4 separate regions of the Homo sapiens genome follow, and all the other regions are linked to region 1. The links come from fine-mapping of genetic effects on gene expression. A gene starts in region 1. Each other region holds a variant in brackets. All regions are shown on one strand. Distances are between the middles of the regions. Region 1 holds the start of DHX58 (DExH-box helicase 58). Region 2 has its middle 4.3 kb from the start of STAT5A. Region 3 holds the start of GHDC (GH3 domain containing). Region 4 overlaps KCNH4 (potassium voltage-gated channel subfamily H member 4).

What was found. PIP is the estimated chance that this variant, and not a neighbour inherited with it, causes the effect.
Region 2: its variant is fine-mapped to the expression of DHX58 in whole blood (TOPMed, PIP 0.98).
Region 3: its variant is fine-mapped to the expression of DHX58 in whole blood (INTERVAL, PIP above 0.99). The same link has a PIP of 0.9 or more in lung.
Region 4: its variant is fine-mapped to the expression of DHX58 in fibroblasts (GTEx, PIP above 0.99).

Annotation. Positions count from the first base shown.
Region 1 is chr17:42,108,145-42,116,144 of GRCh38, forward strand. DHX58 (DExH-box helicase 58) reads right to left here and starts at 4,570. Exons shown (of 14, transcript NM_024119.3): 1 at 4,461-4,570; 2 at 3,969-4,061; 3 at 3,581-3,749; 4 at 3,152-3,353; 5 at 2,579-2,769; 6 at 1,126-1,242. The coding sequence starts at 3,748. It overlaps KAT2A (lysine acetyltransferase 2A), which reads right to left. Exons shown (of 18, transcript NM_021078.3): 12 at 7,579-7,689; 13 at 6,748-6,891; 14 at 6,346-6,460; 15 at 6,214-6,250; 16 at 6,075-6,138; 17 at 5,856-5,940; 18 at 4,967-5,698. The coding sequence ends at 5,505. RefSeq lists enhancers at 1-280, 4,078-4,177, 4,418-4,937, 7,637-8,000, 7,896-8,000.
Region 2 is chr17:42,280,224-42,288,223 of GRCh38, forward strand. It overlaps a transcript of STAT5B not described here and a transcript of STAT5A not described here. Among named protein-coding and RNA genes, the nearest start is that of STAT5A, 4.3 kb to the right of the region's middle. RefSeq lists enhancers at 6,989-7,048, 7,332-7,832 and silencers at 7,849-7,928, 7,949-8,000. The variant A/G (reference allele first, on the strand shown) is at 3,216.
Region 3 is chr17:42,187,904-42,195,903 of GRCh38, forward strand. GHDC (GH3 domain containing) reads right to left here and starts at 6,591. Exons shown (of 10, transcript NM_032484.5): 1 at 6,490-6,591; 2 at 5,864-5,947; 3 at 5,414-5,691; 4 at 5,003-5,124; 5 at 4,338-4,839; 6 at 3,115-3,307; 7 at 2,929-3,000; 8 at 2,721-2,854; 9 at 2,282-2,367; 10 at 1,184-2,018. The coding sequence starts at 5,678. The coding sequence ends at 1,800. RefSeq lists enhancers at 5,079-5,609, 6,504-6,733. The variant C/T (reference allele first, on the strand shown) is at 3,767.
Region 4 is chr17:42,173,069-42,181,068 of GRCh38, forward strand. KCNH4 (potassium voltage-gated channel subfamily H member 4) reads right to left here. Exons shown (of 17, transcript NM_012285.3): 1 at 7,802-8,000; 2 at 5,725-5,958; 3 at 5,263-5,409; 4 at 5,032-5,159; 5 at 2,986-3,229; 6 at 2,511-2,668. The coding sequence starts at 7,877. Among named protein-coding and RNA genes, the nearest start is that of KCNH4, 4.1 kb to the right of the region's middle. RefSeq lists enhancers at 5,315-5,816, 6,467-7,034 and a silencer at 7,984-8,000. The variant C/T (reference allele first, on the strand shown) is at 4,375.

The sequences.
Region 1 (8,000 bases):
CGTTGGAGGATGGGCACCCAGTGGGGGTGCTGACCCCGGCGTGTAGCACACCGCGACTGCCTCACCCATCTGTCTTAGCTGTGGTGTGAGCTCCAGAGGGAGGCCGGCTAGGGTGTGGGGGAGTCCTGCCCTGTCTCACCCGCGATGTGCTCTTACCCTTTGGCCTGGGCACGGTGATGCCTAGTGTAAGGCACATGGACGTGCTTTGGTCAAGGAATAGGCCGAGGCGGACATCCGGGCCAGAGTGACTCAGCGAGTTTGGGGGGCAGGCACGTACTCCACTTGCTATATAACCTGTTTGTGTAAGTTCATACTGGACTCTACTGTCAGTAGAAGGTAAAACTGCCCTGCTGACGCTGTTCACGGAGCTTGGTTCAGCTCGGCACGGCAGGGCACGCTTGCTCGCCCAGAGAGAGAATAATGCTACTAACCCCTGCAAGGGACAGCCGGTCGCCTTGAAGGTGGGCAGTGGGGAGCCAGGAACCCGCTTGTGCCCAGAGGGAAAGAGTTAAGCTGCTGACCCTGACAGAGCTGGCCTTGCCGGCCAGGGAGAGCAGCTGCAGGCGTGGGGGCAGCAGGAGCCACAGGGCCGGAGCAGACAGCCCAGATAAAGGTGGACAGTGTGAGAGAGCCGCTGCTGAATAAAACTACATTTCACCTGCCTATGGCCCCCCAAGGGTTCTTTCAGCTATCTGCTCACTCACTCCCTCCCTCCAGACCACAGCATGGGCTCAAACCTGACCCCAAGTGTAACATTTGGTATAGTTATGGACCTGACACCTAGTCCTTGTCCAGTCCAGTCATGGCAGACACGAGGCCGTGTCCACACTAGAGAGGGCTCAGTAGAGCCTCAGCACAAAGTATCCCTGCTCTCTGGTTTGTAGTGCACTCCCCAGCATGACAGTGATGTGACAGACACCAGTGGTGCCTTCTGAGTCAATCCAAAGAGCGGGCTGTGGGCATGGGCTGTATCTGCCCCATTTCACAGAAAGGAGAAATTGAGGCTTGGATACATAGCAAGTGACCTGAAGTCACAGAGCTAGTGAGGGCAGAGTCAGGGCCCAAGCCTAGGTGTCCTAACTTCACACCGGCTCCCGCTCTCGCCGTGTCCCTGCCCCCGCGTACCTGGCTGCGCCTGTGGCAGAGGTTGTACTGTTTGCAAGGCTGTTGGCTGTGCTCCTGCAGCTGGGGGCAGCAGTTCTGGGGTGACATGATGCACCACGTGTCCAAGTTGGCACAGAGCTGGGGGCAACAGAGGACTTTACTGGAAAGGGAGGGTCTGTGGGGACAATGGTCAAAGATTTGGGGCAGGATGGATCCCAGCTGAGGACAGGAGAATGTGGGCATTCGTCTACTCAAATATTGCTCGCCCTCTCTGTGCCCGTCTTGTTCTAGGCACTGGGGATACAAAGGAACTCAGATTGGAGTTGGAGAGGCAGATAATAAACCAGTAAAAGAATAATAGAACCGGCCAGGCATGGTGGCTCACACCTGTAATCCCAGCACTTTGGGAGGCCAAGGCGGGCGGGTCACCTGAGGTCAGGAGTTTGAGACAGCCTGGCCAACGTGGTGAAACCCCACCTCTACTAAAAATACAAAAATTAGCCAGGCATGGTGGCACGCGCCTGTAGTCTCAGCTACTCGGGAGGCTGAGACAGAAGAATCACTTGAACCCGGGAGGTGGAGGTTGCAGTGAGCCAAGATCGTGCCACTGCACTCCAGCCTGGGTAACAGAGACTCCGTCTCAAAAAAAAAAAAAGAGGCTGGGCACAGTGGCTCACGCCTGTAATCCCAGCACTATGGGAGGCCAAGGCAGGTGAATCACGAGGTCAGGAGTTCGAGACCAGCATGGCCAACACGGTGAAACCCCGTCTCTACTAAAAATACAAAAAATTAGCTGGGCATAGTGGTGGGTGCCTGTAATCCCAGCTACTCGGGAGGCTGAGGCAGGAGAATCGCTTGAACCTGGGAGGCGGAGGTTGCAGGGAGCCGAAATCATGCCACTGCCCTCCAGCCTGGGCGACAGAGTGAGACTCCATCTCAAAAAAAAAAAAAAAAAAGAAAACAATAAAACCTTGCAGAGCGCATTAACAAGCTCTGAAGAGGATAGCACTGGATGATATGACAGAGAGCAGAGATCAGGGAGGACTTTCAAGAGGTGGCATTAAGCTGTTCAATGAATGACAAGGAGGAGGCAGCAGGAAAAGTTCAAAGGGAAGCGCATTCTAGGCAAAAGAAATGGTAAATGCAAAGGTCCCCGAGATGGAACAAGCCCTACATGTTCAACATGCAGAAGGCAGGCCAGTGTAACTGTAGGATGAGCTACAACAGGGAGGGCGCAGGAAATGAGGTGGAGAGGTAGATCACGTGGAACTTTGTAAACCACAGTAGAGTCGGGAGTTAATTCTTTGTACCATAAGAAACCATTGGAGGCTGGGTCTTAGGTGAGGAAGGGGCCAGACCCTGCCATGGAGAGCCTGGTAGGGCTGGTGGGGACGGGGTAGTGGCAGGGCAGGCAGGGAGGGAGGGAAGTCCCTGGTGGGTCTGGCAGTGGGAGGCCCACAGGGGCCAGGCTGACCTGCAGGACGTGGTTGATGGCCCCATCGAGTTTGGAGGCCCCGCCAGTGCCTGGGGAGGCTGTGAGACCCAGCACCTGGGGTAGCGGCTGTGCCCTCTGGAGTTTAAGTTCTAGGTACTGGCTCATGATGACGTTGTAGACGGTGTCCTTGTGCGTGTGGTGGCACTCATCCACCACGATCAGGGAGAAGACTGAGGGCACAGGGGGGAAGGCTGTGACCTATGTTTGCAAAGCCCTTCCTCCCATCAGCTTTCAAGTAGTCCCCACAATGATGTAAGAATTCCTTCTTCCCTTCACAACCTGCAGCTGGTCCCAGGATGAGGAGCCAGGCAGGGAAGACTTCTTTCCATTTCACAGATTAGTAAACCGAGGCTCAGCTGGGGAAGGGACTGGCCTAAGATCCTACACGATAGCCCGGCCTGTTTCTACTAGAGTGCCTGCAGGGGTTTTGTGAACAGGCAACCCCTCACTCCCACTAAAACTCCCAACACCTTGACTCCAGGAGGTGCCCTGGGGTTGGCGAAAGGAGGTACCCCAGATGCGTATCTTTTTCCTCCCGGCCATGGCCCTCACCAGTGAGCTCCACGTGCTCCTCCTCCTCGGGGCTGGTCAGTGCCATCTGCAGAAGCTCTGCTGTGCAGATGAGCAGGTCATGGCACCGGGCCAGGTGGCCAAAGCCAGCACGTGGTCCCATGTCCCCACTCAGGGTTGTCACGGTCCAGCGTCCATCCAGCATGCGCCTGAACTCTTCACCATGCTGGGTCACCAGGTGCACCTGGGGGTGGAGAATGAGCTGGGAAAAGAGAGCTGAATCTGGGGCCAGGGGTAGGGAGGCGGTAAGGTGACCCGCAGGACATGGCTGGGTACTGAGCCAGGGTGGAAAGACAGGTGAGCTTAGCGATGGCCACAGCAGCTTTGGAGTTCTGGTGGGGACTGGGAGATGCCTGAAGAGCTAAGACCCTGCTTGGTGGTGGGAGAGCGGGGTAGGGACAGACCACTCACCCTGTTGACCAATACAACCACCTTGGCTCCATCCACAGTCTCTAGGTGCCGCTTGGCCACATAAGCAGCCGCCCGGGTCTTCCCGGCACCCGTGGGCAGCCAGATGATGATATTCTTGCCCTCCAGGGCAGGCATGATCACCTCCCATTGGTAGGACCGAAGCTCCATTCTGGGAATGGCAGGGGACTCAGACCCACCGACTCCTCCACCCCTCCCAACTCCTGGCCAGACCAGTCAGTACAGAGACCTCCCTTTGCCCAGGACTCCACCCCACTTGAGGGAGGTGGGGCAGGACTCCCTCAGAACCCATCAGGACCCTGCTCTGCCCAAAAGGGGGAGGCGGGAGTAACACAGGCTACACCTGCCCCCTGCCCAGCCCAGGACTCACCTGCTCTAGTAGGTAGGTCTGCCCAGGGCAGTCCCACTTAACTCAGCCTGGTGCCACTCTGCTCAGCTCAGAGACCCAAGATGGAAACTGAAACTGAGGGAAGGAGCCAGCTGAGCCGACTTAGGAATCTCCCATCCCCGCCCCAGGAAAAAGAACCAAGAGAAAAGAACCGTTTGTGCTAACAGTCATCGCCAACTGCCGTGAGTACAAACTCCGGTTAAGTACTGCTGCTGCGCCAGCGCCCTGGCAGGCATGATCACCTCCCATTGGTAGGGCCACAGCTCCATTCTGGGAATGGCAGGGGACTCAGACCCACTGGGCCCTCCACTCATCCCAACTCCTGGCCAGAGCAGTCGGTACAGAGACCTCCCTTTGCCCAGGACTCCACCCCACTTGAGGGAGGTGGGGGGGGGGACACCCTCAAAACTCATCAGAAGCCTGCTGTGGCCAAAAGGTGGGGGTGGGGGGGGGTGGGAGTAACACAGGCTACACCTGCGCCTTGCCCAGCCTGGGTCTCGCCTGCACCACCACGTAGGCCTGCCCAAGGCGGCCCTGCTTAGCTCAGCCTGGTGCCGCTGTGCTCAGCGCAGAGAGCAGAAATCAGAAATGGAAACTGAAACTGAGGGGAGGAGCCAGCTGAGCCGACTTACGAATCTCCTATCCCTGCCCCAAGAAAAAGAACCACGTGTGCTAACAGGGAAGCACTCTTTCAGTGCTACAGGATCCTCTACGCTCTGGCCCTTCTGCAGTCAGTTGTAACCACATCCACCCAGGTTAAGGTGAAGGCAGGAGGTTCTGACCCCTGCTGCCCTGGCATCTGGATCAGGAGCAGCCTGGAGGAGGGAGAGGTGGGGGGCTGCAGGCAGGTAGGACCCATCACCCCAGGAGCACAGGACCAGGCCTGAGGCTTGCTGGGGAGAGCAGCCTCCAGTTTGCAAGAGGTCCCTGGGGGCCAAGGTGAGCCTGCTAAGGCTGGGACTACACCAAAGAAACAATCACACAGAGAAATAAAAAGCTTTATTATTCCCTCTAAGGGATTAATGCCAGGGAATGAATGGTCCCCATACCCCCCACCCCTGGGGGAGACTGACAGAACAGTGCTGGACAAGGCATGGCCCCCTTCAGTTTGGGCTGAACTTCCAACCCCTGAAGCCATCACTCAAGCTAAAATGAGCAGTTCTGGTCCTCAGGGAAACAGCCACCTGGGCCAGGCCCAGGAATCCAAGCCTCCAAAGCTCTTGGGGACCAGGCCTGGGGGCCACCACGGCTGGGCAAGGTTCATCCCTGGCCACCAGCTACTCTAGAGGGGCTGGGCCCCAACCCAGGAGACCTCTCACACACAGTGAAGGCTGGGACAGAGCTGCACGCTTGGGGGTGCCTGAAGGTCCAGAAAGAGCTGCAGGATCGGGTCCGGAGGACCCTTGGCTGGAGTGTCTCAAGCTGAGTCGGGTCCGTGGGGCCAGGGCACCCCCTAAGGATCAGATCAGAATCCGAGGTGGAGACATTCCAGGTCAGGGCTGCGGCCCAAAGATGGGCCTACTTGTCAATGAGGCCTCCCTCCTTGAGCTTGAAGTAGAAGAACTTCTCCAGGGCGCTGGCACAGCGGCAGTACTCGCTGTCCGGGGGGTTGTACTCGCGACAGTTGGCGATGACCCGCTGCAGGTCGGCCACAAAGAGCTTCCGGGTCACGTAGTAGCGGCTTCGCAGCCGCTCAGTCATGGTCTTCAGGTCTGGGGCAGCAGGAGACGGAGCACAGCTTTAAGAGGCTGAAGACCACGGCAGGGCTGTCCACCAGGGTGGGCCCCCTGGGGCTGCAGGGCGCAGTGAGGGCAGGAGCAGGTGTGGGGACAGAAGAGGAGGGAAGGGGATGGAATGGAAGGTCCTCACCAATGGGGAAGCGGATGACCTCGTAGTAGTCAGGGGCCTCCGACTTCTTCACAGGCTCCATGAAGGGCCAGGCACTGGGGTGAGACTGGAGAGAAGAGCCGGGCTGGGGACAGCCCTGCTGCGCCCACGCCAGCCCGAGACCACTACCCACCCCACACTGCATCAAGAGGCCACAGCCATTGGTGCAGGGGCCCTGGAAAGGAAACCTGGTCTCCCCACCTTGATTTGGGCCAGCAGGTTTTTGAGGGTTGTGTAGAGCTGGTCGGGGTCCTTCAGCTCCTTCCTGGGGCGAGAGACACCAAGTCTGAGGCTCCAAGTCCCTCTGCCCCACCCCCAACCCGGCTCCTTTGACACTCACCCCTTCTCCTTCCCCAATGGCTTCCAGCCTGTCTCTCCTGCAAAGTGGGAAGTGGGAGAATGTCTCTAAGAATGCCAGTCCACACCCCAAGCATCGTGCCCCCACTACCCTGCAACTGAGACCCCTGCTTACGAATGCCAGGAACGCTCTCCACAGGGATCTGCCTCACGCCCTCCTTGAAGCAGCTGAGCCCCGGGTAGACCTTGCGGATCTGGGCCTGTTTGCGCTCAATCAGCTTCTTGATGATCTGAGGGAAGGAAGGGACTGAGGGGCCAACTCCAGCCCCAACAACAACCCCTCCCAGGGCCACAGTCGGAGCCACTGGCTGCACCCACCCAGCTGCAACGCCACCTAATCCAGCACCTCCCCTCATAACTTCCCCAAGGGAGCAGAGCAAGAGCCAAGATCCTGGCCTGCCCCTCCTCACTCACACACATATATGCATGTAGACGTAGAACAGGTCTACACACGTGTGCTCGCCCTCTGCATGCCCATTCATGAAAAATCCCACAGATGCGCATGTGTGCACACCACCTCTTTCTGCTTCTTGATGATGTGGGACAGCTCCGTGTAGGGGATGCGGGGATTCAGCTCACACTCCATCAGCGTCGCTCCCTCGTAGTCCTTGATGTAGCCCAGGTAGCGGCTCTTGGGCACCTTGATGTCCTTGGAGAAACCCTGGGGGGTGGATGGTCATGACCCAGTCCATCCATAAGTATTTCCCAACTTCTGTCGTCCCTCACCTGGGAGCACCAGAGGAGTAGCACGTGCCACTTGCCACCTCCTGCTCCTGAACCTCCTCCTGGGGCACTGTGAGGGTTCAAACTGTCCCTGGAAAGGTCCCAGGTCAGCTGCCCACTCCTGACTCATCCCGAAGAGTCCCCCAGTTCCTCCAGCCTGCTCTACTGGCCCCCCAGTTCCTCTAGCCTCCTCTACTGGCCCCCCAGTTCCTCCAGCCTCCTCTACTGGCCCCCCAGTTCCTCCAGCCTGCTCTTGGCCCCCAGTTCCTCCAGCTTGCTCTACTGGCCCCCCAGTTCCTCCAGCCTGCTCTACTAGCCCCCCAGTTCCTCCAGCCTGCTCTAGTGCCCCCCCCAGTTCCTCCGGCCTGCTTTACTGGCCCCCTAGTTCCTCCAGGATGCTCTACTGACCCCCAGTTCCTCCGGCCTGCTCTACTGGCCCCACAGGCCCTCATTCTCCCCTGGGGCAATGGCAGCAGAGGAAAGAAGATAGGCATGGAGACTCTCCTGGCAGGTGTCAGGTGAAGTAGGGGACGCAAAGGGACTCCTACTCCATCCACAGAGGGGCTGGACAGAATTACCCCAGCCTCCAGGCAAAGGACCGGTGTGGGACGAGGCTACGGGTCACCTGCTTTTTGAAGTAGCCGATGGCGTACTCGTCGGCGTAGGTGAGGAAGTAGAGAATGTTGTGCTTGATGTGATACTCCTTCAGGTGGTTCATCAGGTGGGTCCCATAACCCTGCGGGGGAGGGAAGCAGGACTCACCAGGAGCTGAGGATGGGCCTGGTGCTGGAGAGGTCTCAGAGACCAGAGAAGAGCGGGTAGATTGGAAAGGAGGTAGAGAGAGCGAGAGCATCCAGGCAAAGAGGAAGAAAGGCAGCTGACAGAGGAAGGGGAGCTTATGGGGAGAAAGTGAAGGGTGCGGGCTTTCTAAGCTCACTCTGGGCTAGGTGCAGTGCTTCCTGTTTTACAGACCGATTCTCAAATTAACCCCAGAGGCGAGTATTACCACCTTTATTTTACAGAAGAGAAAACCGAAACTCAGCTACG
Region 2 (8,000 bases), 170 kb after region 1:
CTTAGTGCACCAGCCTGACCCAGGAGAGAGGCTTGGGGGAAGAGCCTGGGGGTCTAGTCCACAGCCCTTGTCCATGCATGCCCCTGCTCCCATCCTACAGCCTCCTCCCCTCTCTCTCTCATAGATGAACACATGGCTTTCAGAGGGGGCAGCTTCCCTGCTTCACATCCTCCCTCACTCCTGCCCCAGAGATCATGAGGCCATTTTCTGGGAACGTCACTGAAGCCACAACCATGATCCCCTCTGGCCAGAAACCAGAGGCCTTCGTTATTATGGCTTCCCTCCTGCATCCCAGGAGTCAGGCTGACCCTGGGCAACCACCGGCCACACATTTGCTAAGAAAGGGCACTGTGGGAATGTCCCTTTTTCCCTGTGGGGATGAATCCTTCCATAGGGGGATAGGTCAGTACAGGACCCTGGAGCCATGTGGAGAAGGTATAGGATGCTCAACAGAAAAGAAGGCGGGGATGCCAGATCTCCAAGGCCTCAGAATGGCGTGGCCTCGGTTTGGAATGGGCTCTGCAGTTTCGGAGGGCTCTGTCAGTGCCCCTGCTTACTTCTGCCAGAGCATTGGTGGTGAAAAGTTAGATATGGTTCTAAATCCCAGCTCTGCTAACTTACTAGCTGTTGGCCGGGCGCGGTGGCTCACACCTGTAATCCCAGCACTTTGGGAGGCCGAGGCGGGTGGGTCAGGAGGTCAGGCGATCGAGACCATCCTGGCTAACACGGTGAAACCCTGACTCTACTAAAAATACCAAAAATTAGCCGGGCGTGGTGGCGGGCGCCTGTAGTCCCAGCTACTCCGGAGGCTGAGCCAGGAGAATGGCGTGAACCCGGGAGGCTGAGGTTGCAGTGAGCAGAGATCGCGCCACTGCACTCCAGCCTGGGCGACAGAGCGAGATTCCGTCTCAAAAAAAAAAAACAAAAACAAAAACAAAAAAAAACTAGCTGTGTGACTTTGGTCTAGGTACTTAATGTCTCTGAGGATCTCAGTTTCCCATCACGTGTAAATCATAGTTAGGGGGTAGAGTGTAATATATGTTTCAAATCCACAGAATCCTTCCGTGCATTTAAATGCACAAAAGACCCCAGCAACTGTTGTTGCCCCTCCAGAAGGGCCCTGGGGGACAGGAAAGGGCAGAGACTAACTTTTCACCACATACCCTTTTGAATCTTTTGTTACAAAATACATATATCATGTGCAGATGCTCCCTATTAAAACATTAGTAAAATAGACAGTTTTTTTAAAGGAAAAAGGAGAGCATTTGTGAAGGCAACTAAGCACTGTGCCTGGCACTTGATAAAAAAGCATTTTCTCTCTTTCTTTCCCTCAGCCTAATCCCAGCCAGTGTGCTGGCCAGGAGAGAGCTGGTGCTTTGTCACATGGAGGGGAGGGGAGAGGACGGGAGCGATGGATGTGCAGGTGCATGGAGGACTCGCCACCTGGAGAGTCTCACACACCTGCTCTCAGTCTTGCTCCTGTGTGCCTCACCAATCTGGGCTCCCTTCCAGCCAGAGCTAAAGGCTAAAGGGTGGGCTCTCTGGAAAGGCCAAGGATCCCCCGACCCCGCCTCTTGGGACAGGGTCACTGGGCTCTCTCCACCCAGAGTCCTGGGGGATGCAGCATTATCCAGGGAGGGTGGGGCGGACGCAGAGGAGGGAGCAGAGTGCCACTGCAGCCAGTATCTTGCTGGCTTGCCAGGCAGGTTAAGAACTCAAAATTCAGCCCAGCACCAGGCAAAGATGAGGCTGCTGCTGCCACTGTGTGTAGAAAAGCAGCTCAGTGGGACCAGAGCAGGCAGAGGCCAGGGCAGCAGGGGGAGAGTCTTCTGGGAACCATGGTGGGGGTGGTCAGTGAACAGGGGGCTGCCCTGAACCGTCAAAGCTCCGGAAGTTCTGTGCTGGTTTAGGGGCCTTCATTAATCCAACAGATATTTATGAAGACTCTATTGTGGACAAGCAGTGGGACATAGCCCTTTAGGCAATGTGTTAGGGCCATAAGAAGGGGCCTGTAATACAGATGGGATTGAAGGGCAGAGGAAAAAACACCCAGCTCTACTGGCCAAGGCCTCTGAGCACCTACAATGCACCAGCCACTGTGACTGAGTCTTTTTTTTTTAGACAGAGTCTCGCTCTGTCACCCAGGCTGGAGTGCAGTGGTGTGATCTCATCTCACTGCCACCTCTGCCTCCCAGGTTCAAGTGATTCTCCTGCCTCAGCCTCCCAAATAGCTGGGATTACAGGCATCTGCCACCACACCTGGCTAATTTTTTTATTTTTAATAGAGACAAGGTTTCACCATGCTGAGTCTGTGCTGGCTTGGTCAGGCTGGCCTCAAACTCCTGACCTCAGGTGATCCACCTGCCTCAGCCTCCCAAAGTGCTAGGATTACAGGCTTGAGCCACCGCACCGGGCCTGTGACTGGGTCTTAACAGAAATCCCAGCAGTGGGTCTTGCTATTTCTTTACAAGTGAGGATGCTTAGATCCAAGAGGCAGACTCACTCACTCAAGATCCTACAGCAGAGCCAGGGTCTGCACCAGGACCTTATGACTCCAAAGCCTTTGTGTTTTCCTCTAGGCCACACTAACCCTAGGAAAGATGAGGCCAATTTCACCAGGTGGCCAAGGGAGGAATGACATTCCAGGTAGATGGAATGAAAGGGGCTAGTGCTTGGAGTTGAGAGGCCAGCGTAAGGGGAAAAGCCTGGCCGAAGCACTTTTTTGAGGCTTGGAGCAAGGAAGATGTGGGTAGATCTGAGACTTAAGAAACGAAGAAACAATGAGAAACAGATTCTACAGAAAGGAACCCCCTCCAGTCATAACAAAGGAAAGTGGCAGAGTACTGGGAGGTGTCGTGGAAGATGCTCAGCCCCCTCGCACACAACCCCCAGAGGGCTTGAGGTTGGGTACTGGGCTGGCCAAGGCACAAAAGATTTCTTGTTGGGCTGGAAGGAGGAGAAACTAGCTCAGCGGGAAGAGCGGCCTGATAGTCATCATGGATGAGGATGAGAAGCCAGGCTTGACCCAGGGCTGCCCAGGACAGTGCCAATTCCACTCAGCTGCCTGGCTCTGTGTGCCCTCTCTCCTCTCTCCAGGCTCCTGGGCCTGGCCCTGCAATGAGGGGGCTGCAAAGGGTGGGCTCCTCCTGCCCACCTGACTGGCTGGGAAATGTGAACCTGGCACAGACTCTGCATCCTCTTCTCTTCGTCCAGAA[A/G]GAAACCGGCCTACAAGCCTCTCCCCCAGGGCAGGCAGGCTGGGCAGCTGGGCAGAGGAAGCAGGACTCCTCTCCTACCCACCCTGTCCAGCCCCACACCCTTCCCCTCATGCTATTCCCAGAAACAGAGGACAGTCACTATGCCTCAGGCAGGATGGCCTTGTGTTCTCTTGGTGACTTCACTGTAAAGTGACTTCCCTGAAGAGTGGTGGATAGGGGACAGCGGCAGGAACGGGCTTCACCCAAGCTCCGGCAGCTCCTTCCCTTCCCCCAGATTTGCACAGAAGTCCTCACCCTGTGCATATAAACACACACCCTCCCTAGGTCCTGATCTGTCTTCTTGGACAAGAATGGGGGTGGCATTTCTATAGGGAGGTACCAGGGCCTGGCCTCAGAGGTGGGGTATACTCTGAGCATGGGCCCATGGCCCCACTTCTAGAAGCCTTCTCCGGTGGGGGCTGGAGTGCAGGTAGGCTGTCCAAGCAGAGGCAAGGTGGGGGTGAAACAGGATGTTTAAGTGCTCCAGGGCTTCTCCCCTTTGCCGCAGGGTGAAAAGATACTTCCTAGAAAGCCTCCAGCTTTCTTGGGAAGGCCCTTCACCCCTACCCCACCTCCCCTCTGGCTCCCATGTAACAGGAACTCTCCTTGAAGAAGGGACTTGGAGCACAGGAAACAAAGGCATCTCTGTACCACCTCCCTCCACCCCCCAAGGAAGGTCAAGTCAAGGTGACCTCAATCTGTTCTCCCCAGGGTAGGGGCATGGGCAGACCTGATCGTCAAGGGCAAGGCAGAAAGGGGACCTGGGATAATTCTTTCTCTCTCCCTCTTTTTTTTTTTTTCTTTTTGTGACGGAGTTTCGCTTTTGTTGCCCAGGCTGGAGTGCAACGGCGTGATCTCAGCTAACTGCAACCTCCACCTCCCTGGTTCAAGTGATTATCCTGCCTCAGCGTACTGAGTAGCTGGGACTACAGGTGTGCACCACCACGCCCAGCTAATTTTTGGATTTTTAGTAGAGACGGGGTTTCACCATATTGGCCAGGCTGATCTCGAACTCCTGACCTCAGGTGATGCACCCGCCTCAGCCTCCCAAAGTGCTGGGACTACAGGCGTGAGCCACCATGCCCGGCCCTTTGGGATAATTCTCTTAATCCATAAACTCAAACCCACCTTCATGTAAGTGTGCACAGAGCACACTGTCCCATTCAATAGAGCAGGGGTGTAGGCTGGGCGAGAATGGAGATGCCATGCTCCGCACCGCAGAAAAATGGTGGGCTAGCCCAGCCCAGGGAGGCCTCTTCACTCCGCCGGTGTGTGCTGGGCTTGGGGAAGCTTAGAAAGGTTATACTGAGACCCTGCCCACAAGGCCCGGCAACTTGGATCCTGGTGCCATCTGTGCACTTACTGGCCAGACAGCTTTGGGCAGGTTTCTTTCATGGACTAATCAAAGGGTGTGATTCTGGCCCTGACTGCCTTCAAGGTTATTGAAAGGATCCGTTGAGTTGAAGAGCACAACCATGTCTGTACACAAATGTGCCTTGATGTAGTTCAGGATACGAATATAGTGTGCCAACTGAAGCCTAGGCTGCAGACTATTATTATTCCTAATAAAATATAGGAGGTCTTCTTTTGGAGAATATATTGCTTTTTTTTTTTTCTTTTCTTTTTTTTTGAGACAGAGTCTGACTCTGTTGCCCAGGCTGGAGTGCAGTGGTATGATCTCGGCTCACTGCAACCTCCGCCTCCTGTGTTCAAGAGATTCTTGTGCCTCAGCCTCCCGAGTAGCTGGGATTACAGGTGCGTGACACCACGCCCAGCTAATTGTTTTGTATTTTTAGTAGACACGAGGTTTCACCATGTTGGTCAGACTGGTCTCAAACTCCTGGCCTCAAGTGATCCTCCCACCTCAGCCTCCCAGAGTGCTGGGATTACAGGCGTGAGCCACTGCACCTAGCCTGGGGAATATATTTCTGTAAGATTTCTAAAATCCTTCCTCACTCCCCATCTAATACTGTGACTTGGATTTGGGGGTGAAGAGCAGTTAGGGGCAAGGAGGCCAGCCTCGGACCGCAGCTCAGTCAGACCCTTGACAGTTTCTGATCTTCCTGAACCCCCATCCCGTGGCCTCAGTTTTCTCCTCCACAGCCTGGTTCCCCAAAATCACCAGGGCACTTTGTGGTGGGAAATCACCCACACAAGGGGACAAACAAGGGGACTGAAAGCAAAAAGAAACCCCAAATTTGACATTTCTGGGTAGTTGTGTTATCTGGAGCCACGACTACAGTCACCTCTTCCCAACCCAACTCTGACACCCTTCCCTCTACTCCCTTGGGTGCCCTTTGCCCATCCTGGGAAAGTTCCATAGCTCCTCCTCCTCCCCACTGCATCTCAAAGGGAGAACAGGCCTGAAGAAATGGAGAGAAACCCAGACAGAATCAGAGAACCAGATGGAGACCTAAGGAGACAAGGGAGAGACACAGAGAGAATAAAAGCCAGAGTGGGGGCCGGGCATGGTAGCTGATGCCTGTAATTCCAGCACTTTGGGAGGCCGAGGCGGGTGGATCACCTGAGGTCGGGAGTTCGAGACCAGCCTGACCAACATGGAGAAACACCGCCTCTACTAAAAATACAAAATTAGAAATACAAAATTAGCCAGGAGTGGTGGCACATGCCTGTAATCCCAGCTACTCGGGAGGCTGAGGTAGGAGAATCGCTTGAACCTTGGAGGTGGAGGTTGCTGTGAGCCAAGATCGCGCCATTGCACTCCAGTCTGGGCAACGAGAGCGAAACTCCATCTCAAAAAAAAAAAAAAAAAAAAAACCCAGAAGGGGAAATGTGCAATGAAAGACACAGATATTCGGGGCCTTACAGTCAGAGACCAAATGAGGGATGGTCAACCAAGGGCACAGCCACTGGGCACAGGGTCAGGGTGGGAGGCACGGGAGGGCTCTGAAAACACAGCCACACACCCTTTTAGGCCCATCCTTCCCATTCTGTACTCTGGCACCTCAATGCTAGCTTTTTAGGACCTAGGACTACCCACACTAAAGCCAAGCCCGGCCCAACCAAGACAGATGTTTGGTGGGTGGGGCTGCCTGCTGGAGCAACAGGCCTCTGCAGGCCCTGGAGGAGAAGTCTAGAGAGGTGGCTGCCTGGAAGAGAGCAGGCAGGACCCCCTCTCTTAAGCAGGCACCCCCACCCCATCAGGTGCCCAGATGTCAGTGCATGGCAAGGGTGGCCCTCTGCCCTCCAGACCTGGGTGAGAGGACTTGAAAACCTGAGGAATCTGCTCCCATCAACTGACTTCCACACCTGCCTGAAGGGAACTGCTGGAGGGCACAGGTGCCAAGTGGGACCCACCCAAATGTGGCAATGGGTTTGTATCCAGCCACCGACAGGCTGCATGACGGTGGCAAAGTCACTTCCCCTCTCTGGCCTTTGTTTTTCCACTTGTAAAATCATCTTTATGGTCACTTCCAGCTGTGGCACTTGGCTTTCATTCCAGTTGACCCCCTAGCTCTGTGTCTGACCCTCCCCTGCCAAATCCATTGCTCAGAGTGGGAAAGGAGAGGAGAGGGACTATACTTCCTCCTCCCTGGGGCCCCCTGCAGAGCATCTGGGAAGCAAGGCTTCCCTACATCCTCCATGCACCCCCTTAGAGTTTTCAATTCCTTTCCTCGTGATCCTGCCAACTAAGACACTGTGACCACACAGAGAAGGTGGGGAGAACGCAGACATTTTGGCTTCTGCAGCTTTGAAGTTCTTTTTTTTTTTTTCCTCTGAAGTTAAAAGAATGAAACTGGGAGAGGTAGTAAGGGGCAAGAAAGGAGAGTGGAAATGGAGAGAAAAGGGCAGCTCTGAGAAGCAGCTGGGGAGGGAGGCAGATGAGAATGCACCCCCCCCAACAGAACATGCAGTCTTGGCCCAGCTGTGCTGTGAGTGGGCAGCTGGGCTGGCCCCTCCTCTGGTGCTGCCAACCCGCTGCCAGGCAGAGGGGAGGCCCAGAGGAGAGGGAAGCTGGGCAAAGGGGATGGAAGGCGTCCAGCCCGACCTTACCAAACCCCTTGGGCCTCGTGGGAAGGGGCCTCTTGGAGAGGGGGACTGAGGCTCTAGACAGGATATTCACTGCTGTGGCAAGGCCTGTAGAGAGTTTCGAAGTTAGGAGGACTCAAGACGGTCCCTCCCTGGACTTTTCTGAAGGTAGAACCAGCCTCATAAGTAACTAGGCTGGGTGAACGGGGGCGCTGGCTAGTTTATGGATCACAGTCGGCTGGTGAGGCCACGTGCCTACTGTGTGGCCCTGGGTGGCCCCGGGCAAGCCCCTTTCCCTCTCAGGACTTCCATTTCTTACCTGCAAAATTGTGGAGAGGGGGAGGGCTGAAACACATGACTGCCAAGATTCTTTCCAGTTCCTCCGTCAGGGTTGAGTTTAGATGGCCGGAGTAAAAGAAGGAGGGAGGTGCTGCGGTGGTGGGGGTGATCTTGGCTTCACTAGAATCCCCAGTTCTTCCCCTCTCTACAGTTTTGTCTCTGAGGTCACAAAACCTGTGGCCCCCAAGACACACATGCGCACACACGCGCGTGCACACACACACCCCACACATTTATTTTTTAATCTAGGGGCTCAAAAGATGACACGCGCCAGAGCTGGAAGGCGTCGCCAATTGGTCCACTTTTCCCTCCTCCCTTTTTGCGGATGAGAAAACTGAGGCCCAGGTTTGGGATTTCCAGAGCCCGGGATTTCCCGGCAACGCCCGACAACCACATTCCCCCGGCTATTCTGACCCG
Region 3 (8,000 bases), 80 kb after region 1:
GGCCTACAACCTCTTTATTGAGCTCCTGCTGCATGCCACACCAGGCACTGGGCATGGGGGCAATTGTGCACAGGATCTAGCCCAGTTTCCAAGGAACTCATATTCCAGGTGGGAGGCAGTTCAGGCATAATGATAGTTCAGTGAAGGAGAGGACTACTGCCCACATGAGCAAAGCTGAGCCAGTCACTCTGCCTGGGGTGGGCCTGGTAGGGGGTCCTCAAAGGCCTTGCATGAAAGCTAGTTTACATCAGGGGCAGCGGGATAGAGGGCATTACATAGAAGGGACAACTTGAGCAAACTCCTGGAGTTGACAGTGCTTAACAACCCTTAGATGGGAGGTGAGGCGTGGTCCTTAGTCCAGGCCTTCTTTCAAGCAAGGGGAGAGAGGTAGCTGCACATGTAGGTGAGGGCCAAGGTCAAAGGGTCTAATAGGCCAAATTGATTGGTCTTAATCCTGTGGGCGATGGGGGCCACCATGGGAGGTTTTTTTTTTTGTTTTTTTTTCCCGAGATGGTCTCGCTGTGTTGCCCAGGCTGGTCTTGAACTCCTGGGCATGAACCATCCTTCCACCGCAGCCTCTTGAGTAGCTGGGACTATAGGCCCATGCCACTGTGCCCAGCTTCACAGGAAGATTTTAACAGGATGGAGTGACAGGCGGAGGTGGGGGCCGGGTGGGTATGCAGCCAGGACCTGGGTGTGGGACATGGAATGGAGAAGCTATTCAGAGGCATCTGGATCCAGTGCTGCCTCTACTGAGGAGGAGCTGAGGTCTGCCCCTCCCATCAGCCTCCAAGATGGAAAACCTTAAAACTCCAGTCCAGGCAGTGGGAGGGAAGGAAGCCAAAATCTAGCCCAGTTTCTTTCTTTCTTTTATTTTAGCCTCTACAACCTTGTGGAGGCTGCGTTTCCTCATTAGTATGGAACAGTGAACCCAGATGGTCTCCGGAGTTGCTTCCTGCGGCGATGCCTTATGATGTGAAGTAATAGCTCTCCCTTCCCCACCGCAGAAGTGGTTTGTGGGTGCTGGCCTAGGATGTGCCACGAGTCCTCCAAGGCTCCTGTGTGCGCATGCAGCCTTGCCAGGCCCAGAGCAGAATGTTGGGGGAAAGTCCTGGAGCTCAGTGGGGGAATGGCTGGGCCGGGGTCCACTCCCGTTTCCCCAAAGCAGACCCTGAGGCAAGAATCTGGGTGCAAGAGGTTTATTTGGGAGCCATCCCAGGAAGCCCAAGGCGGGGGAGTGGGGAAGAGAGGGAAGGGAGAGCCCCCGCAGGAAGTACATGAATGAGTGGGTTACTGCTGCGGGCAACTGGGACTCCATCCTGCTGGGCATCCTCTGAGAGTTTATGTAGAATACACTTCAGAATTGTCCTGCTCAAGGACAATGAAGCTGAGGTCCTGCTCCTTATTGACTCAGGGTTGCTGCTCCTGGGGACATTAACCCCCCAACACTTCTAGCTTGCCCAGTGCACTGACTGAGCACACAGCTGTGGCCACCAGAGAACCTCTTTGGGCTGTGATACAGGAAACCATCGGTGTGCATGGTAACTCTCTAGCAGTGTCCTTCATGCCGGGACATGGGGACACGGGCAGGCACTGCTGGCATCTGCTAACCCCGGAGGCCCATACTTCAGAACCGGTCAGCTGGGCCAAGGCCTCTCTAAGGCCCAGCGGCTCTCATGGGCAAATGTCAGGTGACACAGAGTCAGAGACCCTGGCCAAGGACTCCCCATCCGGAGAGGTCCCAGAGGGAGGGGCGAGGTGGCCTCTGGGGGGAGCTGGGCGGTGGGGCAGGACTTGACTCAGGACACCACCCTCTCCTGCAGACACTGGGCCAGGTGCCTGTGCCGAAGGACCCGGGGCATCGCAGGGGGGAAGGGGGAGGAGGGGCAGGCAGCGAGGGCTGCCCGGAGTGCTCGGAAGGCTCCCTGCCCCACCAGGTGGACTCTGGCAGGGCCCACGCTGCCCCAGAACCGCAGGGACTTGTAGCGGGGAGAGGCTTCCTGAAGGCAGTGGTCCAGCTGGGAACAGAACAGCCTGAGTGAGCTGGTGTGTGACTGTGAGTGTGCACACGAGGCGTGTGTGGCTGTGCCCAGGCTACATGTGTTTAGAAGTTTTGTGTGGACAGGTGTGTGTCTGTGGGACTTAGCCCTCCCCTCCCAGAGCCCCAGGGAGCTTCTCCTCCGCCACCCCTCTCCTTCCCATCAGCCCTGATCTCCATGGCACCCTGGGAGTGTGCAGAGTGAAGGGGTCTACAGTCAGACCCTGTCCTCGTCTCCTTTACCTTGTCTCGATTTTCCTCTGACAGATTCCTCAGCCCCCTCAGCGCCACAAACACCTCGTAGTGGGGAGCAGAGCCCGCAGAGGAATCTGTGAATAGACCCCATGTGCACACATACTTCCGGTGAATGGGCAGCTGCCAAGTCTAGTGTCCTCTGCCCTATCTGTTCTTCCCCACTCTGAGATTCATAGGGAAAAAAGAGTTTCTTGGTGGGGAGTGGGGTAAATGGAGAGGAACCTAGAGCTTGATCCTAAATAGGAGACAGATCAGGAAAGAAAATGGGTAGAGACTGCAGCAGGATGGATGAGAGTTAGATGCAGAGAAGGACTTTTGTAGGAGTAGTAAAGGAGGCTTATCTCTTTCCTAGCAGTCCCCTGGCAGGGGAGGTAGGAGTTGAAGGGTAGCTCAAGGATGGTAGGCAGGAGCCGGTGGGGAGGCTCACCCAGAATGCTGCTCTCCACACAGCCATGGTCCAGCAGCTTGGCCCCCGCCCACTGCCCCACTGCCCGGCCCAGGGCCTCAGAGAACAGGTCTTCACCAATATCTTCCCCTCGCACACTCAGGGTCTGGTCCAGCCTGAAGAGGAGGAAGGGAGAGGCAGTGGAGCCCAGGACACAAGGATGGCCCTTCAGCTCCCCGGGGTCACCTACCTGCAGATGAACCTGACGACTGGACACTGATTGTAGGCACCAACCACTCGCACCACATCACCCAGGCGGCACCTGATGGGGTGCAAGTGGGAGTGAGGTCGGGCCCAAGGTCTTCTGAGCTCATGCCCCAGGCCCCCAGCACGGTCCCATAGGGCCCCAGGTAGCAGGGGCTGTGCAGCTGATCACCTGGTGAGGCTGGCGCGGTCCGTCAGCACCAGCTCATACTCCTTGCCCTGCTGGGCCTCGGCCAAAAGGAGGGTGGAGGCAGCTTCCTCCTGGGTGCCTTCCTTGACTGGGAGCAGCTCGATAAAGGGGGCCCCAGGGGGCAGAAGGTAGAGCCCATGGGGCTGCTCTGGCTGTAGGTTTAGGCCCAGCACCCCTGTGAAAGCAAAGCAGCCTCCTCAGCGTCTGCTGGTGCCATCGCTTTCTGCCAGGCAATAGCCCCTCCTGGATCCCAGGCCTGATCCTCTGAGCACCTGATCCTCCTGCTGCCCTTCCACCACATCCTTCCTGGCTCCCCCAGCCTCAGCGGGCTGCCTCTTAGGCCCTCACTGGAAAGAGGCAGAGTGCTGTGGTCCTGGAGGGGGCAGACTTGGGAGTGAATCCTGGTGCCACATGAATTTGTGCAAGACTCTTTTTTTTTTTGAGACAGAGTCTCGCTCTGTCACCTAGGCTGGAGTGCAGTGGTGCGATCTCGGCTCAGTGATTCAGTGATTCCTGGGTTCAAGTGATTCTCCTGCCTGAGCCTCCTGAGTAGCTGAGATTACAGGCGCCTGCCACCACACCTGGCTAATTTTTGTATTTTTAGTAGAGACAGGGTTTCACCACATTGGCCAGG[C/T]TGGTCTTAAACTCCTAACTTCAGGTGATCCACCCACCTCAGCCTCTCCCAAAGTGCTGGGATTACACCCGTGAGCCACTGCCCCGGCCTTTTTTTTTTTTTTTTTTTTTTGAGACAGGGTCTTGCTCTGTCACCCAGGCTGGAGTGCAATGGCGCGATCTCAGCTCACTATAATTTCTGCCTCCAAGGTTTAAGCAATCCTCCCGCCTCAGCCTCCCAGGTAGCTGGGATTATAGGCGTGCACCACCATACTCCGCTAGTTTTTGTATTTTTAGTAGAGATGGGGTTTCGCCATGTTGGCCAGGCTGGTCTGGAACTCCTGACCTCAACGATCCATCCACCTTGGCCTCCCAAAGTGCTGGGATTACAGGCGTGAGCCACTGCACCCAGCTACAAGACTCTTAACCTAGAGAGCCTGAATTTCTTCACTTGTAAAAGGAGGCTGCTGGCCCTAGCATGCAGCTTGTTGGGGAGGATTAAATGAGATGATTATGTAGGGCCCAATGCATGGCTGCTTGTCATGTGACCACTGACCGTTGCCCCCACCTCACTGCCCTTGAGTCCCACTGACCTCCCGAGGCAGCATAAGCAGGAGAGAAGAAGGCTAGTCCTTGGCACCACAAGGCCCCGAGGGCAGCCACAGCCTCGGCCTGGCCTCCTGCATCCAGAGTCACCACCACCTGCAGCTTTGGCCAGAGCCGAAGGGCCAGTCCCCGTGGCCCCTGCTCTAGGGCCTCCCGGAGCTCAGCTGCCCGTTCACGGAGAGGCGCTCCAGGGTTCCCGGCAGCTATCGCCCCAGCTAGCTCTTCACCATCAGTCTCCAGGCCCAAGAAAACATCCAGAAGTTCGACAGCCGTCCCAGCCTCCAGTGCCCTCAGCCCTGGGGACCTCAGTGCGTCCAGCAGCAGGGCCCTAGGGTCCTTGGTTCCAGGGGTGCCCACCTGGCCCAGGGTATTCCCAGGCCAAGGCAGGGGTCGGGGCCAAGGGGATGTAAGCGTCACACGGGCAGTGCGTCCCTGAGCCAGCACTTCTGGGTAGGCCTTGTTTAGGGCTGCCAGACCCAGCAAGGTGGCCTGGAGGAGGAAAGAGAGAATGTTGGTCTGGTGTCAGAGCCAGACCCAGAGCCCCCATTTGGGGGTTCTTTGCCCACCATGACTGGAGGGTTTGGCTGCAAGTCAGAGGTCTCTGGTGGGACTGGGCTGTGGCCAGGACTGGGCTCTGGCCATCCTAGATTACCTGCAGAGAGGCCTCCCCAAGGTCCTGGTTTGAGGTCGGGGGCAGTGGCTGCTCTCCACTGTCTTCCTGCTGGGTCTGGCTGGCCTTGGTCAGAGGGAGATGATTCCGGAAGGTGCTTATGTCTATAGCCCCAATGACAACAGAAACGCCTCAGGAAGCCAGTTTCCCAAGAGTTTCAGGCAAGACTGGTGAGACCCTTGAGGGAGGAACCGAGAATAGGCCTGGGGTAGAGAGGATGTAAGGACCCAGCATGGGAAATTCATCTTGGACAAGAAAGCCAGTCCTGGGTCTCTGGGTCAGGCCACTCCGTTGGCAGTGGAGGAGGTAAGGGGGCCATCAGGCTCTGGAATCTGACGGTCCTGTGGGGTTTCTTTCTCTTTGGGTCACCTCCCCAGACCCTGGGAAACACACCTGTGCTCCTTCTGAGGGAACAGTGGGGGCGCTGGGCTCCCTGTAGACACCACCTCAGGGCCTGCTGCTGGCTCTGGTGCACATGGAGCGTGCTCTGCTCCAGCCTCCGCCGCTGCCAGGTGGCTGCCCAGACCAGGGCCCCCCATGCCACTCGGTGCTGGAGGCCAGCAAGCCAGGACAGCCTGGCATCCTGGGACCGCTGCTGCCTGAGCAGGGCCAATGTTGGCAGCAGCAGCAGCAGCAGCAGCAGTGGCCACAGCAGCATCTCCAAGCAGCTCCTGGGAAGAGGAAGGAACCGAGATATGGGGGCATGCAGCAATTATCCATTTCTCCTCCCACGCTCTACTGCATACAGGAAAACCGAGGAAAAATGAAATTGGGAAGAAGGCAGGACCCTGTGGGGCAGGTGATGCAAAGGAGAGACTATCAAAGCTTTGGAGTCCCACTGACCTGAGTGCAGATCCTGCCTCTGCCGCTTGTTAGCTGTAGGGCCCTGAGCAATTTAGTGGGCTGCACTGAGCTCTGTTTCCTGATCTGCAAAATGGGAATAAGAATAAGAATGCCTCTTTCAGAAGGTAGGGGTGGGCCGGGTGAGGTGGCTATCATCTGTAATCCCAGCACTTTGGGAGGCTGAGGCAGGAGAATCACTTGAGCCCAGGAGTTTGCAACCGGCCTGAGCAACATAGGGAGACTCCATCTCTACAAAAAATTGAAAAACTAGCCCAGCGTGGTGTCACACCCATAGTCGCAGCTACTTGGGAGGCTGAGATGGGAGGATCCCTTGAGCCCAGGATGTCAAGGCTACAGTGAGCCAAGATCGTGCCACTGCACCCCAGCTTGGGCAACAGAGTGAGACCCTGTCAAAAAAAAAAAGAAAAGAAAAAAAAGGGAGAAAAGAAGGAAGAGGAAGGGAAGGTACAGGAAGGGTTTCGGACAGGGTCGGTCGGGCACACAGCAGCTGCGTAACGATATCTCTTGCCCACTCCCGAGTGGCTTTGCTTTCTCTCGGGATCCACCCTGTCCCAGCTCCTTGTCCCTCCTGAGCCCCAGGCTGTGGGGTCCATGCCCACATGCACCTGTCACAGCCCACTTCTGCCTACTCCTGGCACGTGACGGAGACCCCTGGGTGACTCTGGGTCTCAGCACACATCCGGCCAGAAAGAAGGAGCGATGGCTTTAAAAGGCTGGGCCCCAACTGGGAAATCCGGCCACCAGGCCTGAGGGAGGAGCTGAAGGAGGGGGGTGCTCTTAAAGGGGCAGGTCGCCTACAGGACTTCATGTCGGGTGCTAGCCCAGGCTGGCAGTTGGGGCAGTTAGGACCAGACTAGCATGGTCCTCAAACTTGCGCAGGTGAAGGAACAGAAAGGTGTGTGTGGGAAAGAACGCCATTAAGCCACTTGAGCTGGGAGAGGGGCAAGCTTAAGAACTCTTAAAACCCCAACTCAGCTGGGCGCGGTGGCTCACGCCTGTATTCCCAACACTTTGGGAGGCTGAGGCGGGTGGATCATCTGAGGTCAGGAGTTTGACACCAGCCTGACCAACATGGTGAAACCCCATCTCTACTAAAAATACAAAATTAGCCAGATGTGGTGGCACATGCCTGTAATCCCAGCTACTTGGGAGGCTGAGGCAGAAGAATCACTTGAACTTGGGAGGCGGAGGTTGCAGTGAGCTGAGATTGCGCCATTGTACTCCAGCCTGGGCAATGAGCGAAACTCCGTCTCAAAAACAAACAAAACAAAAACAACAACAAAAAAAACCCCATCCTCTCCCTCAAGGTAGTTGAGAAAGAAAACAATTTTATTATTGAATAAGCATTCAACCACAATGTGATGTACATGACAGGTGATCTGCTAAGAGCTTGCAAAGAAGGGAGGAAATCTTACTTTTTTGTATAGCCAAGCGCATACAACCCATTACATACACGTTTTCAAGATAAACAATAACGAGTCCTCAAGTAAGAGGACTTGTCACATATAGTTTATCTTTTTTTTTTTTTTTTTTTTTTGAGACACAGTCTTGCTCTGTTGCCCAGGCTGGAGTGCAGTGGCACAATCTCAGCTCACTGCAACCTCCACTTCCCAGGTTCAAGCGATTCTGCTGCCCCAGCCTCCCAAGCAGCTGGGATTACAGGTGTGTGCCACCACGCCCAGCTAATTTTTGTATTTTCAGTAGAGATGGGGTTTCACCATGTTGGCCAGGCTGGTCTCAAACTCTTGACCTCAAGTGATCTACCCTCCTTGGCCTCCCAAAGTGCTGGGATTACAGGTGTGAGCCACCACACCCAGCCAGTCACATAGTTTATCTTAACTTTACATGGTTATTAGGTGAACATCTGTGTTAGCTTGCTGGCTTTATCCCAAGGAAAATTACAAACTTCTTTTTTTTTGTTTTTTTGGCAGAGTTCTATTCTTGTTGCCCAGGCTGGAGTGCAATGGCACGATCTTAGCTCACTGCAACCTCCGCCTCCCAGATTCAAGCAATTCTCCTGCCTCAGCCTCCCGAGTAGCTGGGATTACAGGCACGCATCACCACACCCAGCTAATTTTTTGTATTTTTAGTAGAGACGGGGTTTCACCATGTCACC
Region 4 (8,000 bases), 65 kb after region 1:
CTAATATTACCCCAAGTACCATCTGCATTGTGGTTATCAATATTGATTAGCCCTTCAATCTTGGAGATGGGCAGGGCTTATCTTCTGGGTGGGAGCAGCCTGGCAGCTAGGACTGGAGGCTCTGGGGCAGTGCCTGGGGAACTTGGTATGAAAGCCCCTCATTGCCCCTTCCTGGGCCTCCAGGAACATTCCCCACAGCCCTGGCCCTACACTGCTCCTGGACCACCTCGTGCAATTTTTCTCTAATTTTAGGTGAAGGAACTGGAAAGGAGGTGGCTCTGATTCCTCCATATGGACCCTCGCCAGGGTTTAATGCCTACCCCCAGCTCCCAGAGCCCTTGACTGCAAGCTTGAGTTCTTCAGGGCTTCCCTCAGTCAGCTGCCCTTGGGCCACTCTCTTGGGGATACTCCTGTCATTCTCCTTGGACTAGAATATCCAGGCCTGGCTCCTTCAAGTCTGCAGCTCTGCCAGTGCCTGCTCATCTTCTGTCTCTGCTCTACCTCTCTCTGGCCCCCAGTGGTATTCCTCATCTCACCAGACCATCCACTCAGGGGCCCTGGTTACCTGGGAAGCAGGGTGGTATGTTGGAAAAAATACTAGACTGGAAGTTTAGCGATCTGGTTCTTTTTTTTTTTTTTTTTTTTTTTTTTTTTGAGACAGAGTCCCTGTCGCCCAGGCTGGAGTGCAGTGGCGCAATCTCGGCTCACTGAAAGCTCTGCCTCCCGGGTTCAGACCATTCTCCTGCCTCAGCCTCCCAAGTAACTGGGACTACAGGCACCTGCCACCACGCCTGGCTAATTTTTTTTGTATTTTTAGTAGAGACAGGATTTCACCATGTTAGCCAGGATGGTCTTGATCTCCTGACCTCGTGATCCGCCCGCCTGGGCCTCCCAAAGTGCTGGGATTACAGGGTGATCCACTGCGCCCGGCCAAGCTGGAGTGCAGTGGAGCTATCTTGGCTCACTGCAACCTCCACCTCTGGGACTCAAGCAATTCTTGTACCTCATCCTCCCGAGTAGCTGGGACTACAGGTACGTGCCAGCACACCCGGCTAATTTTTTGTGTTTTAGTAGAGAAGGGGTTTCACCTGTTGCCCAGGGTGGAGAGACCTGGTTCTAATATCCTGCCTGCCCCTGCTAGGTATGTGACCTTCAGCAAGTCACTGAACCTCTCTGAGCCTCTGTACCTACCTCTGAAAAAGGATAAGCCTCTGCCCTGAAGGGTTCCCGTGGGGCTCCCATGTGATGATGAGTGTGAAAGAACATAGGGAACTGTAACGTGCTCCCAAAGGGACCTGAGAGGAGGGGCAGGGGGCTCTCTGTAGTGTCCCACTCCCCAGCTGATGGTGCCTGGTGGGCATAGAGGGGTGGGCGCACCCCTGGGGAGGGGTAGGGAGATCTGCTCAGAATGGTCAGAGCCTCGAGGCAGACGTACACACATGCACGTGTGTGGGAGCACGCACACACGTGTGCACAGCCAGGAGAGGAGGCCCACAGCCCGTTGGCGGCTAGTTAAATTCGGCTGCGTGTAGGTGGTTTCCTGCTATAGCTGAGTGCAGGGAGAGAGCACACAAGGAAACTGCTCCCCACTTGCCCGCCCCACACCCAAGGGGGCCTGGGGACACGGGGTAGCACTGCCCCACCCTGGACTTGAGAAGACCTACTATCTGCTGGCTGGGGCCACAGATGACCACTCAGGGCACCTCCAGAGTGTCCCCAGGGATCTGTGAGGACTCAGGTCCTGGCATTCTTTGCCTCTGAATTCACCCCACAGCCTCTACCTTCTTGTCTAGGTTTACTATGCTCCCCCAAATGCTTGCTGTCCTCATCTCCTTCCAGCTAAATCCTACTCACCCTTTAAGGTCTAGCTATACCATCTCCGCCTCCCTCAGGAAACCTTCCCAGACCCCTCCAGCCTCTGCCCAACAAGGGCGCTTTTGCTTCCCAGGTGCTGGCCAGACTTCAGATCATTTTTACACACACTCATGTTCCAGCCTGGAACTCCAAGGTCAGCCCAGCCCCTCTGTAGCATACCCGGGCCCCATCTTCCACCCCCATTCACCTCTTCTGTCCCTGATGTGCTCTGTGGCATTCCTGCCCCCTCACCAGTTTGGCTGTTTAGAGGCTGAATCCTTGTTCCCTTTCCCCACAGTGGCCATGCCCCACACAGTGCTTTGCAGACAGCTAAATGCTCATCAGTTGTTTGTTAAATAAAAATGTGAAAAGTACCACTCATTTGGCATCAGACCAATGCCGCCTTGGTAGCCATAGTTAGCTTTTCATTTGTCTCAGCTTCCCTCAAAGATTGTGAGCTGAGCTCCCCAGGATCACAGACCCTCGGGATCCTCCCAGTACCTAGCACAGGGCTATGCCCAGAGCAGGTGCCTGATAAATATCTGCAGATGGATTGATGGGAAGGGGCATATCTGGGTTTGGGGTCAGTCCCTTCCTGGAAGATGCTGTGCTGAAGTTGGGAGGTTGGACTGGATGGCGGGATGGAGGTCACTCACCACGGTGATGTTGAAGATGTAAAGCAGGTCAAAGGGCAGAGCAGCAATAAGGTCGATGAAGAACCAGGTGGCCAGGTAGTGGAGGCCAATGGAACGAGGAGCAGAGATTACCTGGCCGGACTGGGACACATAGGTGGTGCGGAAGTTCAGGATGATATCTGGGGGTGCAAGAGGCTATTACTGGGGGGCCTTGGCAAAGGGGTCAAGAAACCGACAAAGCTGGGAACAAGCTTTGGAGACTGGAGGAGGAGGCAGGCATGGAGAGATAGATTGGGCTTCTGGCTGGTCCTTAGGGAGGATAGGTTACAAGGCTGAAGGCTGCGGGGAGCAGGACACATGGGCCATTGGGACTTAAAGATGCAGAAAGGAAGGGGCTCTGAATGTCTGGGTCATGTGGGCCCCAGGAGTGGGTGAGGCTTGGCCAAGTGGATCCCCCCAGCCGACCCACCAGGGTGGGTGAGGCAGAAGGTCTGACCTAGGATGAAGAGCATTTCCACGGCGATGTCGCTGACAAGGGTGTGTCGCGAAGTGATGGGGGTGTCATCGTCACCCGAGAAACAGACATTGTAGGGGACGGTGACCGCAACGTAGAAGGTGGCAAGGAGGATAAGGCCGTCCCAGATGGCCTTGGAGACGCTGTAGTGGAGGAGGAGGCAGCGAGACCCCCCCACGGAGGCCACCTTGTACTCGGGCACTGATGGCTTTGGCTCAAACACGTTCTAAGGGGAGAGGGGTGGCGGTTGGGGACACTTGAGGGAAAGAGGAGCCAAGATGGGGGGTGGGAAAGGCAGGGGATGGGGAAAGTTAGCAGGTGGGCACTGCAAGGGCACTTTTGACCATGAATGAAAGGAGATAGAAGGCCAGGAGAGGGGCGCAGAGGCTGACACCTGACATTTTCTTCTCCTGCCAAGTATTTCCCAGGCCCTCCTCCTTTTTTTTTTTTTTTTTTTTTTTTTTTTTTTTGAGATAGGGTCTTGCTCTTTACCCAGGCTGGAGTGCAAGGGCATGATCTTGGCTCACTGCAACCTCCACCTCCTGGGTTCAAGTGATTCTCCTGCCACAGCCTCCCAAACAGCTGGGACTACGGGAACATGCCACCACACCTGACTAATTTTTGTATTTTTAGTAGAGATGGGGTTTCGCCATGTTGGCCAGGCTGGTCTTGAACTCCTGACCTCAGGTGATCCACCCACCTCAGCCTCCCAAAGTGCTAGGATTACAGGTGTGAGCCACTGTGCCCGGCCCCAGGCCCCTGTTTGAACCAATCATGTCTTGTCAAGGGTATTTATGAGGCTTGACATTCACCCAACTTGATTTTTACATTTTTAAGTTTAGAGACAGTCTCACTCTGTGCCCAGGCTGGAGTGCAGTGGCACCATCATAACTCACTGCAGCCTTAAACTCCTGGGCTCAAGCTATCCTCCTGCCTCAGGCTCCAGAGTAGCTGGGACCACAGGCATGCACCACCATAGCCAGATAATTTTTTTTTTTTGAGAGTTTCACTCTTGTTGCCCAGGCTGGAGTGCAATGGTGCAATCTCGGCTCACCGCAACCTCCACCTCCCGGGTTCAAGTGATTCTTCTGCTTCAGCCTTCCAAGTAGCTGGGATTACAGGCATGTGCCACCATACCCATCTAACTTTGTATTTTTAGTAGAGATGGGGTTTCTCCATGTTGGTCAGGCTGGTCTTGAACTCCCGACCTCAGGTGATCCGCCTGCCTCAGCCTCCCAAAGTGCTGGGATTACAGGCATCAGCCACTGCGCCTGGCCTCCAGATAATTTTTAATTTTTTTTTTTTTTTTTAGAAAAGGGGTCTCACTATGTTGCCCAGGCTGGTCTAGAACTCCTGGCCTCAAGCAATCCT[C/T]CTGCCTTGGCCTCCCAAAGTGCTGGGATTACAGGCATGAGCCACTGTGCCTGGCCCAACACTCATCCTACTTGAGAAGAAGACTATGACAAATCGGCACATGCCCTAGCTTGAGGGGTACCTAACTTCTCCCTTAAGTTCCTCTTGGGTTCTGGGGGCCCAGTGGGGGCTGGGTATATCCCAGCAGGGAGCAGAGGCTGGCATAGCCCACCGCATTCCCTGTATCCCTAACAGAGGGTTGGGGACTCAATCCCCTGGCTTGGTCAGGATCCTAGGAGGTGGTACACAGGTCTAGATGCCAGGCCTGCAATGAGGGCTTTCTCCCTAGAACTATAGCAGCTTGCAATTTCACCACCCATGGTATAACCCTATCACCCCCGGGCAGGTGAGGTCATTGCTGCTAGAGCAATGTGACATCATCGGAGCAAAGTAATGTCAATCACCTAAGGGAATGAGGGAGATAGGGATAGAAGGATGTTGGGGGAGGATATAGGATGGAGCATATACCATATAGAGTAGTATATGGGAAATGGGTGGGCAGAGGAGCAAGCCAAGGAGGGACACCAGACAGACAGGGAAGTGGGGAGACAGTGGCAGGGGTGCCTCAGAATCAAGGCTGGAGGACTTGGGAGATGTTGGGTTGGGGGTGGGACTCACATTATTGGCCTTCATGCCTCCCTGGCCCCGGCGGCCAAAGTGGCCGGTCAGTCGGTGTAGGACAGTACGGCTCCGTCTTCTGGCAGACCGAAATTTCCAGGTGGCTCCCCTTCTACCAAGGGAGTTTTCTGTTGGGAAGAAAGGTGCAGAGATACGTTGGGGCACATCCCTTGCGGCTGGTTAGGCGAAGGCTTCTGACCATTCACACTGCCCGTCCGGACTTGCTGTTACCGTGATTACTGTCCCCGCGGCCTCCTTGGGGGCCAAGTCCTGGGCTTCCACTCTGAGTGATATCCTTGAAGGAAAAGAGGAACAGCACGACCTCCCCCATCTCATTCTTGATGGGCATCATGTCCAGGAGGCACCAAAAGGCTGAGCCTGTAGGCATGGAGAGAGGGAAGGGAGGAGCATGGGCAGCCCCATGGCATGCCTTTCTCCTCATCCCTCTCATCCTCCTAGACATAGTTAAGAGCTTGGCAAAGCAAGAACCAAAAGGAACCTCAGAGATTCTGTCAGCCGATTCCTTCATCTTTCAAATGGGGGAACCCAGGACCAGAGAGGTCAGGGATACGCTCCGTCACAGTCAGCTTTTGGCAGTGTGGGGACAAGCACTCAGACTCCTACTGTGCCCAGTGCCCTCTGGATAAGGCTAGGGGTCTAGGCAGAGCTGCAGGGTGGGGTGAGCCCCCTCACCATCCTTGCGGTAGAAGCAGATTTCAGCCCGGTGCTCCTGGTGGCCCTCCAGGGCTTTGTGCAGACGCTGCAGGGCTGGCTCACTGGTCTCTGGGCCGTAGAGGAAACGGCAGCTGCAGGTCTTCTGCATGACCTCGGTGCGACCGTAGCCTGTGAGCTCGCAGAAGCCGTCGGAGCAGTAGACGATGGGAAAGCCCCGTGTGCCCTGTGCGTTGGCCAGCAGGAAGTTGCTGTCTGTGGGAAGAAGAGGTCAAGGTCAGGTCAAGGCTGGGAGGCGAGCTAGCTTCCAGGTGGGCAGCACTTCCTCTAAGTTGGGGTTAGAAGTCACAGAGCCAGAAGCTTCCCAGGTTTCCATGTTGCTCCTGACCCCACTTTGGGATATTCTGAATTGAGAATTGGAGAAGTTGGAGCAAAGAGACAAGGACTTGAGACAGGACTTAAGCAGGGTCTAACGGGGAGTTGGAGAAGGACCCCAGGAGGTCATGCCATCCATCCCCCTGCCTTCCAACTGGTGAGCTGTCACTGTAGAAGGCAGTATAGCATGGTGAGTAAGAGCCTGGGCTCCTGCAACCCTCCACTGCCACTTACTAACTGTGTGACCTTGGGCAAGTTGATGACCTCTTCTGTGCCTAAGCTTTCCTTATTTGCAAAGTAGGGCATAATAGGCCTTCCTCACATGGTCGTTGTGAGAGTTACATGAGTTAACTTGGGGAGAACAAGTCCTAGCACATGGTAAGTGCTACTCTGAGAAGGTGAAATTTTTTCCCCACATTCACTTGGCTTTCTTCCTATTACAGAGTAAGCAGGGCAGAGATTCTGATGACACCACACCCATTTATTGATAGGAAACCAAAAGGCAGAGATTATCCAAACTCACAGATCTCCTTAGTGTGGGGGCAGACAGTGATGAGTGCTGTCTTCCTTCCCTGCCTTCCAGAGAAGGTCCACTTTTTAGCATTCTTGTAGCTGCTTTCAGGGGATCTGCCCCACTGCTCAAAGTCTAATGGGAGAGGGCATTGAGCGTATAGCTCCAGCAACCCCCAGCAGCAGAACCCGAGCTGTCTCCCTCCAGCTCCAATGGGTGGGAGGCCAGGGGGACTCCTGTGGGCCATCCAGGGACAGAGACTCAGCTAAGAGATGGGGCCTGTGACACAACCAGTCCTGGTGCTCTAGGAGGGATGACTGTCTGGGGGCAGGGAGGCTGATGGGGACACTGAAGGTGCCTGGGAGGCACTGGGCTCTGGGCACAGCCTCCTTCTTCCATCCCAGGGCCTGTTGCCCCGGTGATGGGCGCTATGGAAACAAGGTGGTGGGGAAGAGGGTAGGGCCCGGCGGCTCAGTTTCCGCCCTCGGGTACCGCTCCCCCACCATCCAGATCCCGGCCAGGGTTCCCGAGGGAATGGCGGGGTTGGGGGAGGTGAGGGCGGGGAATCTCTGGGTTCCAGAGTGGGAAGAGGGAATGGCGGGAGAAGAGGCGGGGGAGGAGTGATGTGGCTGTCCAAGGTGCTGAACCTGAAACCCAAGCTACGTTGGGCGAGCTGGGAGTTCCCACCGTCGCACAGACCGCTCCCCTCCTCCTGCCTCACCCACCTTAGACACTGACGCCCCACGATTTGGGGGCGCGCGACCTCAATCCAAACTAGGTCCTGCTGAAGTCTGATCTTTTCTCCTTTTTTTCTGGAGGTAGTGGGAGCTGGAGTCTGTGAGTAGACCCCAGAATGCCCGGCCACTTTGCCCCACTTCTGTGTCTCGGATACCCCCATACACGCCCCCAGCACAGCTCTGCCCGAGAGTGGGCGGCTCCGAAGGACCCTCCTCCGCTCTGCCGCACAAAGAGCCTCTTCTGCCTCGAGTCACACCCCCTAACCTTGGCCCCCGTGCTCTCGGCCCTTTCCCCTCCTCCCCTCGCAGGGCACTCCCCGCCCTGTTCCTGCACCGCGGCTTTGGGAGTTCCTAGACCCGCACCTCCATTCTCTCCCCTCGCCTCGGGTCTCACCATGTCCAGGAGATCCGAGACGGCCCCGAGGATACTTGCCCCCCAGCTCGAACCTCAAGCCCCGACCTCCGTCCCACTCACGCGTTCCGTCAAAACGGGTGGCGATGGTGTCCAGGAAGGTGTTTTGCGGGGCCAGCAACCCCTTCATGACCGGCATGGCCCCGGGGCGTGGGTTCAAGGCGCGGCGCTGGGGAGCTTTCAGCGCGGCCGGGCCGGAGGGGGCGCGCTGTCGGAGGGGCCGGGGCGCCCCATGCGCCCTCCTGCCTCCTCCCCTCCCTCT